2 separate regions of the Homo sapiens genome follow, and region 2 is linked to region 1. The links come from fine-mapping of genetic effects on gene expression. A gene starts in region 1. The other region holds a variant in brackets. All regions are shown on one strand. Distances are between the middles of the regions. Region 1 holds the start of BIN2 (bridging integrator 2). Region 2 overlaps BIN2 (bridging integrator 2).

The links. PIP is the estimated chance that this variant, and not a neighbour inherited with it, causes the effect. A credible set is the group of variants that fine-mapping cannot tell apart.
Region 2: its variant is the best candidate, but not a certain one, in a credible set for the expression of BIN2 in whole blood (TOPMed, PIP 0.68).

What each region holds. Positions count from the first base shown.
Region 1 is chr12:51,322,220-51,327,540 of GRCh38, reverse strand. It overlaps BIN2 (bridging integrator 2), which reads left to right and starts at 3,367. Exons shown (of 13, transcript NM_016293.4): 1 at 3,367-3,519. The coding sequence starts at 3,439. LOC105369767 (a long non-coding RNA gene) reads left to right here and starts at 3,533. Exons shown (of 2, transcript XR_944957.3): 1 at 3,533-3,813; 2 at 4,338-5,173. RefSeq lists silencers at 142-436, 3,132-3,621 and an enhancer at 3,652-3,841.
Region 2 is chr12:51,280,048-51,285,363 of GRCh38, reverse strand. BIN2 (bridging integrator 2) reads left to right here. Exons shown (of 13, transcript NM_016293.4): 12 at 577-648; 13 at 3,836-4,326. The coding sequence ends at 3,865. Among named protein-coding and RNA genes, the nearest start is that of SMAGP, 12 kb to the right of the region's middle. The variant A/G (reference allele first, on the strand shown) is at 2,832.

The DNA.
Region 1 (5,321 bases):
GCTGAGATCGTGCCACTGCACTCTAGCCTGGGCAACAAAGCAAGACTCCGTCTCAAAACAAACAAACAAAAAACTTCCTGAGTGACTGAATGTGCCCTGTCTTTCCCAGGTATACTGTGGGTTCATCCTTCTTTTGTTTCCCCCTTTAGTGCCTAAAACGAACGCCCACTCCAAGTTTCTGGGTGATGGCAACTACTAGGATACACCAGAGATAGAAGTATAAGATTAGGAGGCAGGGCAGATACCAGCAGACTAAGAAAGTGACAAATTAGAAAGGAGACTGGAGAAAATCGCTTGGGCCTGGGAGGTGGAGGCCGCAGTGAGCCAAGATTGCGCCACTGCATTCCAGCCTGGGCAATGAAGTGAGATTCTGTCTCAAAAAAAAAAAAAAACAACAATGGAGACTGGAGAGCTAAGAATAGAAAAAAGGAGAGAAGAGAAGATACTAAACAAAGAAACGAAAGGGTTGAGGGGAAGAGGCAGAACAGAAAGGAAGAGGCAACAACAACATAGGGCCTCAAGCTAAGTGTGAATCAGCACTTTAAGGCTGGGACTAAAATTAGGCAACCGGATCCAGGGTTCTATAAACCACAGAGAACTGGGAAACTGATAATTCTGCTGTATCCTGGCCAGGGCTCAGTCTGTTAGAGTGGCCTATGAGAAAGCAAAGGGGGAACTGAAAGGGGAAGGCTAAAAAGGATGAGAAGCAGCTTTTCATGTCAATCACTTAAGACCAGACAAGAGGGACTAGGGTATTAAACATTACAGAAGGAGAAACTGGCTGAGACAGACCCTGGAATTGACAGGCTCAGCAGAGGCCTCTAGAACACTCCATGTGCTATAAGAGGCTGAGTCTGTTCCCATCCCAGTTCCACCACTGAGGAGCTGGGTGGCTGTGGTCAAGTCATCAGCCCTTTCTGTGACTCAATTTCCCTATCTAATTAACTTCTAAGGGTTGTTTCTTCTCTAACACTACATGATTTGGTGACCATCAATTTCAGTTTGCAAGATATTGGCACTAAACAGAGTTTCTTAGGAGACAGTGGCTGGGTTGCATTGCTGAGGATGCCATGTAGTCCTGGCAGGGACACAGGTACTGGCCTCCTTCTGCCAGTGACACACCTGTTAGCATTGCCATCTACTCTCAGTGTTCCCGCAGTACTGCTATTCTCCATGCTTCTCCCCACTTCTCCCCATCCAATATCAAGTCCTTCTATTTTCATCACCCTGCCTCTTCCAGGGCATCACCAAAGCTAACATCCAGAATAAACCCTAATCGCCTGGCAGGGCAAGGTGGTTCACACCTGTAATCCCAGCCCTTTGGGAGGCTGAGGCGGGTGGATTGCTTGAGCTCAAGAGTTCCAGATCAGCCTGGGTAGCCAGGAGTGGTGGCATGCACGCACCTTAGTCCCAGCTACTCAGGAGGCTGAGGTGAGACCATCACTTGGGCCTGGGAGGTAGAGGCTGCAGTGAGCCCTGATGGCACTGCTGCACTCCAGCCTGGCAACAAAGCAAGACCCTGTCTCCAAACAAACAAACAAACAAACAAACCCTAATCACCTATTCCCAGAAAATTTTGTATCCATCTCTACAAATAAATTAAGCACATTACATTAGAATCACCTGATTACCCACCTATCTCCACTTCCAGACTTTAAGCATCTTTATTTATGTACTTATTTATTAATACTTATTCTTTATTGGTTGAGAAAGGGCCTCACGCTTTGCCCAGGCTGGAATGCAGTGGCACCATCAGGGCTCACTGCAGCCTCCACCTCCCTTGGCTCGGGTGATCCTCCCACCTCAGCCTCCCTGATAGCTGGGACTACAGGTGTGTGCCACCACGCCCAATTAATTTTTGTATTTTTAGCAGAGAGAAGGTCTTGCTATGTTGCGCAGGCTAGTCTCAAACTCCTGGGCTCAAGCAATCTGCCTGCCTCAGCCTCCTAAAGTGTTGGGATTACAGGTGTGAGCCGTGGTGCCCGGCCAGACTTCATTAAGCATCTTAAGGTCAGGGACTGCATTTTATTCATCCTTGTTTCAGAACACCCAGCAATGCCTGGTACACAGTTGACCTTGAGTGCAGTAATGATTGTTTTGGAGAAAGAAGAGGAACACAGTAGCATACAAGGGCCTCTAATTTTGTGTCAGGCCCTATCTTCCCCCTCCACTCCTTAGGAAGTGTTATTTTGACCTTCTTCCCTGCCTTGAGGAAATTTTAACCTGCACTGTAAAATCTGAGTACGTGGTTCCTCCACACCTAGTGTCCTAATCTCAAGCTATCCCCTCAAACAGGTCAGGGAGGAATTTTTTGGAGAACTTCTCCCTAAAGAAACAATAGTTGTCATCTCAACAGCCGCACCCCAATTTGCACAATCTGTGTCTGTGTTCACATTCTGCCTCCATCCAGTACACTGTACTCCAACTAGAAAAACTTGCTCCTCATGCTCAGCACGGGCGTCCATACTATCCTCCTCAGCCTTTTTTCAATGTGATCATTCTCTTGCCTAAGAACCAGCCCCCTACCCTGTTTCTATCTCCAGCTTAGTTGTTCCTCATTTATTTATTTATTTATTTATTTATTTATTTATTTATTTGAGACGAACTGTCGCTCTGTCGCCCAGGCTGGAATGCAGTGGCGCGATTTCGGCTCACTGCAACCTCTGCCTCCCGGGTTCAAACAATTCTCCTGCGTCATCCTCTCGAGTAGCTGGGACTGCAGGCGTGCGCCACCACACCCAGCTAATTTTTGTATTTTTAGTAGCGACGCGGTTTCACCGTATTGGTCAGGCTGATCTCCTAACCTCAGGCGATCCACCCGCCTCGGCCTCCCAAAGTGCTAGGATTACAGGCGTGAGCCACCGCGCCCGGCCTGTTTCTCTCTTTCAAGCCCGGCTCGGGTGTCCTGCCTGCTTTCTGCACTCTATCCCTACCAGTTCCAGGCTTAGAGCCTACCTGGAGCAAGAAACGCAGTGTACATGGCGGCTTCGCATGCATACTCAGAGAACCTAAACGTGTTTTCGATATGGTAGGTCCTCTCGCTGAGTGGAACCCACATCATTTTCTACCCTGCGGTGGCAGTTGCTTTGCAGTGCTCAGCGTGATGGGAACTGGCTTTCCGGAGCGAGTGAGTGTGGGCCCACCACTGAGGACCTGGTTCAGTGAGGCCGAGGTTTCGGGCAGGGGTTGGAGCTCGGAAGCTGGCCTCGAGCGAGCGCTGCCTGAGGGTAGGCCCCGGGCCCGCCCCTCCGAGCCGGCCTGCTCCAGCTGACAGTGGTGGGCTGAGGGGCGGGCCTCAGGGCTGGCCAGGGGCGGCCTGAGGTGGCTCAGGGCTGGGGCCGGATGCGAGGCATGCCGGGAGCCCGCACTTCCTCCTCGGGGGCCTCAGAAAACCACAGGGCGCGGGGCCAGGGCGGCGGCCCCCAGGGAGTTGGCAGGATGGCAGAGGGCAAGGCAGGCGGCGCGGCCGGCCTCTTCGCCAAGCAGGTGCAGAAGAAGTTTAGCAGGGCCCAGGAGAAGGTAGGTGGCCGGGCCTCGCTGTCTGTCTGGCCCACAGGGAGCCGAGGCCGAGGCCGAGCCCGGCCGGGCAGGAGGGGCGGGCAGGGTGCTCAGGGGCCCCGAAGGGTCTGGGCTGACGAGAAGGGTCTCCCGCTCTCCCAGGGAAACGGGAGCGAGGAGTGGGCTTCCATGAAAACTGGCAGATTGGAGAGAGGTCGGAGACCGCCACCCGATCTTGGGCAAGGATAAGGGAAGCTGGGGAGACAACAGTCTCTGGGCAGAACCTTCGACAACCCTCAGGCTGACCCAGAAAAGGTGAAAGAAAGGAAGTGATGGTGGTGGCCACCTTTGTATCAAATTTTGTGCTAGCAATCCAAAATTGGTATTTTACAGATGATGAAATTGGAGGGTAATTTTCCATAGAGGGCAATTTCCCCAAAAACAGCGATGCAGCGGATGCCAGCAGGCACCCCCCACCAAAGGCTTAGAATAATCCTGCATAGTTCTCCCCCTACCTGACCCTGCCTGGCCTCTGGGTGGTGTTTCAGCTGACGTAAGCAGGAGCCCAAATCTGCTTCTTCTACCCTCCCTTTGGCGTTGGGGAGTACACCTCCCAGGGTGATGAACCACATCTGTGTTCAGAGTGTGTCCTTGGTTAGTGTCAGGTAGCCCTGCTCCAGCACTGGCACTTAGGTGGGCTGCCCATCTATTACTTGCTTGGCAATCTAAATTGTGGGGACATTCTCTACACATTTTGATGGCATTTTTGTTTCTACCTGTACAGAATATTTTCTTTGCTTCTAACCTGAGCCTCTGCTCTCCACCTACCAACCCTCTAGTAGACAAGGCGGTTTGGGAAGACATGTCAGCCAGAAGAAAGAGCGAGGGAAGAAAGACAAGAAGGACCTGAGATAGAGTTTCGGTTTTCCTTTTTTTCTCTCTCTCTTTATTAAGCCCAACCTGCCTTCTACAACGGAGAAGTTTTGGTTTTCTAAGAGCTGATGGACTTAGAAGCATTTGGATGAACAGCTCTGCTTACCAACTGAAATATCCCTATTATCTTCTAAAAGTGGAGCACTGCTTTGAGCCCTGGGAAGGCTTAAAGGCAACCAGCTCTCCCGAGTTGATTTATCAGCAGAAAACTGATGGAATGTAGATGTAGCTCCTGACTTTAAGAGACCACAATGGAAGGGAGGTTATTTTCTATCATTTGAGGTCATGTGAAAGAGAGGAGGAAAAGGGAAAGAGTTCGTGTAGCCAGACTTCGTTACTTCACTTACCCTAACTTCACCTTGATCCTAGTTTCAGCCTCTCTGAAGACTTACAAATCTGGTAGACCCGAGAGCAGGGCCTATGGGAAGGTCTAGCTCGAAACAGTGTGGGCGAGCAGGAGGTACTGGAGAGAAGGCCACACTGTGGTTGAAAAAAAAAAAAACCCTAAAAGACAAAACACTCATGAATGATAGTAATTTTAAAAAGACATACCAGCCAGGCACAGTGGCTCACTCCTGTAATCCCAGCACTTTGGGAGGCCAAGGTGGGAGGACTGCTTGAGCCCAGGAGATCAAGACTGCAGTGAGCAGTGATCACACCACACCACACTCAAGCAGAGGGAGACTCTGTCTCAAAAAATAAAAATAAATACATAAAAATAAAAGACATACAATTGATTGTATTTCACTCTTGCATCTTCTGTCTTCATCTAGCCTCTCGTCAACACTAAAACCTTGCTTTGGGCTTTCACTCCTTTGTAAGCATAGACTCCAAACCTTGGCTAAATAATGTCCTGCTCTGGGCTTCAGATCTTGCACCTGTAAAATGAG
Region 2 (5,316 bases), 42 kb after region 1:
AAGTGATCCTCCTGCCTCAGCCTCTCAAGGAGCTGGGACTACAGGTGTGCACCCCTGCACGTGGTCTAGACTGGGCTTCCTACACCTTGGGTTCCCATCTCAGAACCTAAAATTTTTCCCAAAGAAATTATTTTACCACTTGCTTCTCCTAACTGCGTGTCATGAATTAGGATCACTTAAGTGTGAGAGTTGCAGTACATTCTTGAGGACGGTTCATCTAAAAGTGGCAGGTAGTAATTTTAAGACCTCGCACTCCCTTATAGATACACATCCACACCATGTCACACAGATTACATGGTGTTTGATCATGGAAACAACTCAGGAATTCAAAGACCTGGTTTCCTGTCCCAGCAAGTCTTTTTACCCTTTGAATCTTAGTTTATTCATCTGTAAAAGAGGATGGATGAAAGCCTTTCCCGATGCCTTCAGGCTCTGGTGAAACAACACTGTATTTTGCCCTTTGTAATAGTACAAATACTGAGACCCTTGTAAAGTATAAGGCACAGAAGACACTTCTATGCTGAGAGGCTGGAAAGGTTGAGCCACCTCTTACTGGCAGAACTCTTCTCTTTGTAGGGCCAAGACCAGCTTCAAGTCTCCATGGTACCAGAAAACAACAACCTCACAGCACCTGAACCTCAAGAAGAGGTAAGACCAGATATACAGAGAATAGATTGGGCATTAGATTGACAGGGGTTTGGGAAAAGGCTGGAATCTTCACCACAGGCTACAAGGGGAATCCGGCAGTGAACCATACCCTTAGGGCAGTCAAGCAGGTGGGAATCAGAGGAAACAAGAATGAACTGGGACTTCGTGGTATCTCCGTGCCCATTTTCCTATACTTGACCTTAAACTGGCCCTATCTTCTAGGTATTTATTTAATTAAATCTCAAATTATTTCAAAAAGGAGTTAAAGAGGTTAAGATATTTTTTTTAAATGCAAAAAGGTCATATTATACAGTAATGTGTTGCTCAACAACAAGGATATGCTCTGAGAAATGCATTATTAGACGATTTTGTCATTATGTGTGGCTGTATGGTATAGCCTATTGCTTCTAGGCTGCAAACCTATACAGCATGTTACTTTACTGAATTCTGTAGGCAGCTGTGACACAGTGGTTAATATTTGTGTATCTAAACATAGAAAAGTACAGTAAAAATAGCATATAGAAAATAAAAAGTGATACACTTGTATAGGGCACTATCATGAGTGGAGCTTGCAGGAGTGGAAGCTTCTCTGGGTGAGTCAGTGAGTGAGTGGTGAGTGAATGTGAAGGCCTAGGACATTACTTACACTCCTATAGACTATAAACACTGTACACTTAGGCTACACCATTAAAAAATATTTTTCTTTTCTTTTTTTTTTTTTTGAGACGGAGTTTCACTCTTGTTGCCCAGGTTGGAGTGCAATGGCATGATCTCGGCTCACCGCAGCCTTGGCCTCTGGGTTCAAGCAATTCTCCTGCCTCAGCCTCCTGAGTAGCTGGGATTACAGGCATGCGCCACCACGCCCAGCTAATTTTGTACTTTTAGTAGAGACGGGGTTTCTCCATGTTGGTCAGGCTGGTCTCAAACTCCCGACCTCAGATGATGCACCTGCCTTGGCCTCCCAAAGTGCTGGGGTTACAGGCGGGAGCCACCACACCCGGCCAAAAAATATTTTCTTTATATCCTTATTCTGTAAGCTTTATTCTGTATTTTTTCTGTTTCTTTTTAAAACTTTTTTTGTTAAAAACTAAGACACAGAGCTGGGTGTGTTGTGGCATGTGCCTGTAGTAGTTCCAGCGATGCAGGAGGCTGAGGCAGGAGGATCACTTGAGCCCACGAGTTCAAATACAACCTGGGCAACATAGCTAGACACCGTCTATAAACAAGTAAATAAAAACACGCAAACATACACATTGGCCTACGGTCAGGATCACCCATATCACTGTCTTCTACCTTTACATTTTGTCCCACTAGAAGGTCTTCAGGGCACTACCACAAATGGACCTGTCATCTCTGGTAATAACAACGCCTCTTCCTGAAGGATCTACTTGAGGCTGTTTTACAGTTAATGTTTTTTTTAAATAAGCAGAACTTTTTTTTTTTTTTTTTTTTGAGATGGAGTCTCTCTCGGTCGCCCAGGCTGGAGTACAGTGTACAGTGGTGCAATCTCGGCTCACTGCAACCTCCGCCTCCTGGGTTCAAGCGATTCTCCTGCCTCAGCCTCCTGAGTAGCTGGGATTACAGGCGGTGGCGCCACCATGCCTGGCTAATTTTTGTATTTTTGGTAGAGACAGGGTTTCACCATGTTGGTCAGGCTGATCTGGAACTCCTGACCTCATGATCCTCCCGCCTCAGCCTCCCAAAGTGCTGGGATGCTGGGATTACAGGTGTGAGCCAACGCACCTGGCCAATTAGCAGAACTTTTTTTTTAATAAGTAGGAAACACACTAAAATAATAATAAAAAGTATTGTAGGCTGATGTGGTGGTTCATGCCAGTAATCCCAGCACTTTGGGAGGCTGAGGCAGGCAGATCACTTGAGACCAGGAGTTCAAGACCAGCCTGACCAACATGGTGAAACTCCATCTCTACTAAAAATACAAAAATTAGCCGGGCATGGTGGCACGCACCCGTAATCCCAGCTACTTGGAAGGCTGTGGCATGAGAACATGAGAATCACTTGAACCCGGGACAAAGAAGCTGCAGTGAGCCAGGATTGTGCCACTGCACTCCAACCTGGGCAATGGAGTGAGACTGTGTCTCAAAAATAATATATATAGAAAAATATTTTTAAAAGCATAGTATATTAAATACATCAAGTAATATAGTTGTTTATTGTTATCA[A/G]GTGTTATGTACTGTACATAATTGCATGTGCTATACTTTTTACAACTGGCAGCACTGTAAGTTTGTTTATACCAGCATCATCACAAATATGTGAGTAATGTGTTGTGCTGTGATGTTATAAAGGCTACAATGTTAACAATAGCTGCCACATCACTAGGCAATAGAAATTTTTCAGCTCCATTAAAATGTTATGGGACCACCTTTGTATATAGAGTCCATTGTTGATCAAAATGTCATTATGCAGCATGTGAACTGCATATATATATGTTTATTATATTAACATACACACATATACACAACATACAGCAGAAAAACTCAGAATTATATGAGACAGGATAGTGATGTAAAATGGAGCCATGAATTAGGCAAGTATAAAAAATGCATTCTATAAAATAAGCTTACTAAGGATGACCATGAAATTGGTTCCAGACTTTCTAAAATCCAAGAAGAGAAAAACCTGATCAGTTAACCCAATTCACAATGCTCATTCCTTAAGGAGGCTAGGTGCCGGGGCTCACACCTGTAATCCCAGCACTTTGGGAGGCTGAGGTGGGAGGATCACTTGAGCCCAGGAGTTCAAGACCATTCTAGGCAACAAATTTTTTTTTTAATAAATTAGCCAGGCATGGTTGTGTGCGCCTGTAGTCCTAGCTACTCAGAGGCTGAGGTGAGAATACTTGAGCCCTGGAGTTCAAGGCTACAGTTAGCTATGATTGTGCCACTACACTCCAGCCTGGGAGACAGAGCAAGACTATGTCTCAAAAAGAAAAAAAAAGAAATTCTCCTGTGAATCATCATAAAGATATTGTGAATGATGTAATGAACAATATCTGCAACAAGTCCTTGCAATAATCCCAACAACCAGTTTCACATTGCCTCCCTCAAGAGAGGCCAGTGGCATTACATGAAGTATAATTCAGTAGAAGCAAACTGAGTTTAACCCCTCCATAAGTGGTTGGTGGGAAGGCAGGTCAACACCTAACACAATCATGTTTACTTTCCAGGTATCCACAAGTGAAAATCCACAACTCTGAAGAGAAACTACCAAGACTCCTCCTGCCCCAAACCTCGCCAGAGAAGCTCTTCAACCAGAGGGTATAGGTCAGAGGGATATAAGAGCCAGCATCCATCCCTGGGTTCTCAGTAGGAATGCTGGTGCTGTCTAAAGACCTGGCATTAATGGAGGCGGAGGAGCAGCCTTACGGGAGGGATGGAGGGAGGCAGGCTGGGGAGAAGAGAACATTAGACTCAGGGAATATTTAATTCTGGTTTTAGCATTATTAGAATAAGACTTTATACATTAACTAAAGTGGAGCTTTAATCACTATAAAAAGCAAAAGTATCTATAGACACAGACACTTGCCTATACAGAGACATAACCACACACACTCAGAGGATAGTGAACAAATCTGTCTTTGACTTACGACCCATTTTGCAAGACTTAAAGCCGGAAGAACACATTTTCAGATTGTTAAATAAAGTCTGATTCTGACTATCTGTGGATTGTTTATTTGACAAAGGGCATTGTTGCAACCCAGCACACTGTTTTCCACTTAGGTATGGTTATTGATTCTGCCCCAGGTTCAGAAAGGTTTAGTCACATCCCTGACCCCCAGCTCACCCTAACTCCTGACTGTAATTCTTTTATGATACCAAGGGCCACAGACTCTTCTCCTTAATCCTGCATGTGCTCCCCACTCCCCACTTTGGTTGATAAACAGATACACTTGGAAAGGGGTAATAACATTTTAGAGCTATATCTGGTGTTTACAATTTAGTACTTGGTATGAGTAAGGGTCTGAGCACAAGAGAGGAAGATATGAAACTGAAAGGATACAAAGTATAATAATAACAATCATATCGGCTGGGTGCGGTGGCTCACAGCTATAATCCCAGCACTTTGGGAGGCCGAGGCCGGTGGATCGCCTGAGGTTGGGAGTTCGAGACCAGCCTGACCGACATGGAGAAACCCTGTCTCTACTAAAAAAATACAAAAGCAGCCGGGCGTGGTGGTGCATACCTGTAATCGCAGCAACTCGGGAGGCTGAGGCGGGAGAATCGTTTGAACCCAGGAGGCGGAGGTTGCAGTGAGCCAAGATTGTGCCATTGCACTCCAGCCTGGGGAACAAGAGTGAAACTGTCTCAAAAAAAAAAAATCCTATCCTAGAAATGGCATGAAATTTGGAGTCAGAAGTCCTGGATTCTTTTGGGAGGCCAACAGGGGAAGACTGCTTGAGCCCAGGAGTTGGAGACTAGCCTGGGCAAGATGATGAGACCTCTATCTCTTATTTTTAAAAAAAATTTTAAAGGGCTGGATGTGGTGGCTCACACCTTTAATCCCAGCACTTTGGGAGGCTGAGGCGGGAGGATAACCTGAGCCCAGGAGTTTTACACCAGCCTAGGCAACATAGACCCCCATCTCTACAAAAAATTTAAAAACTAGGCCAGGCACGGTAGAGCGCACCTATACTCCCAGCCACTTAGG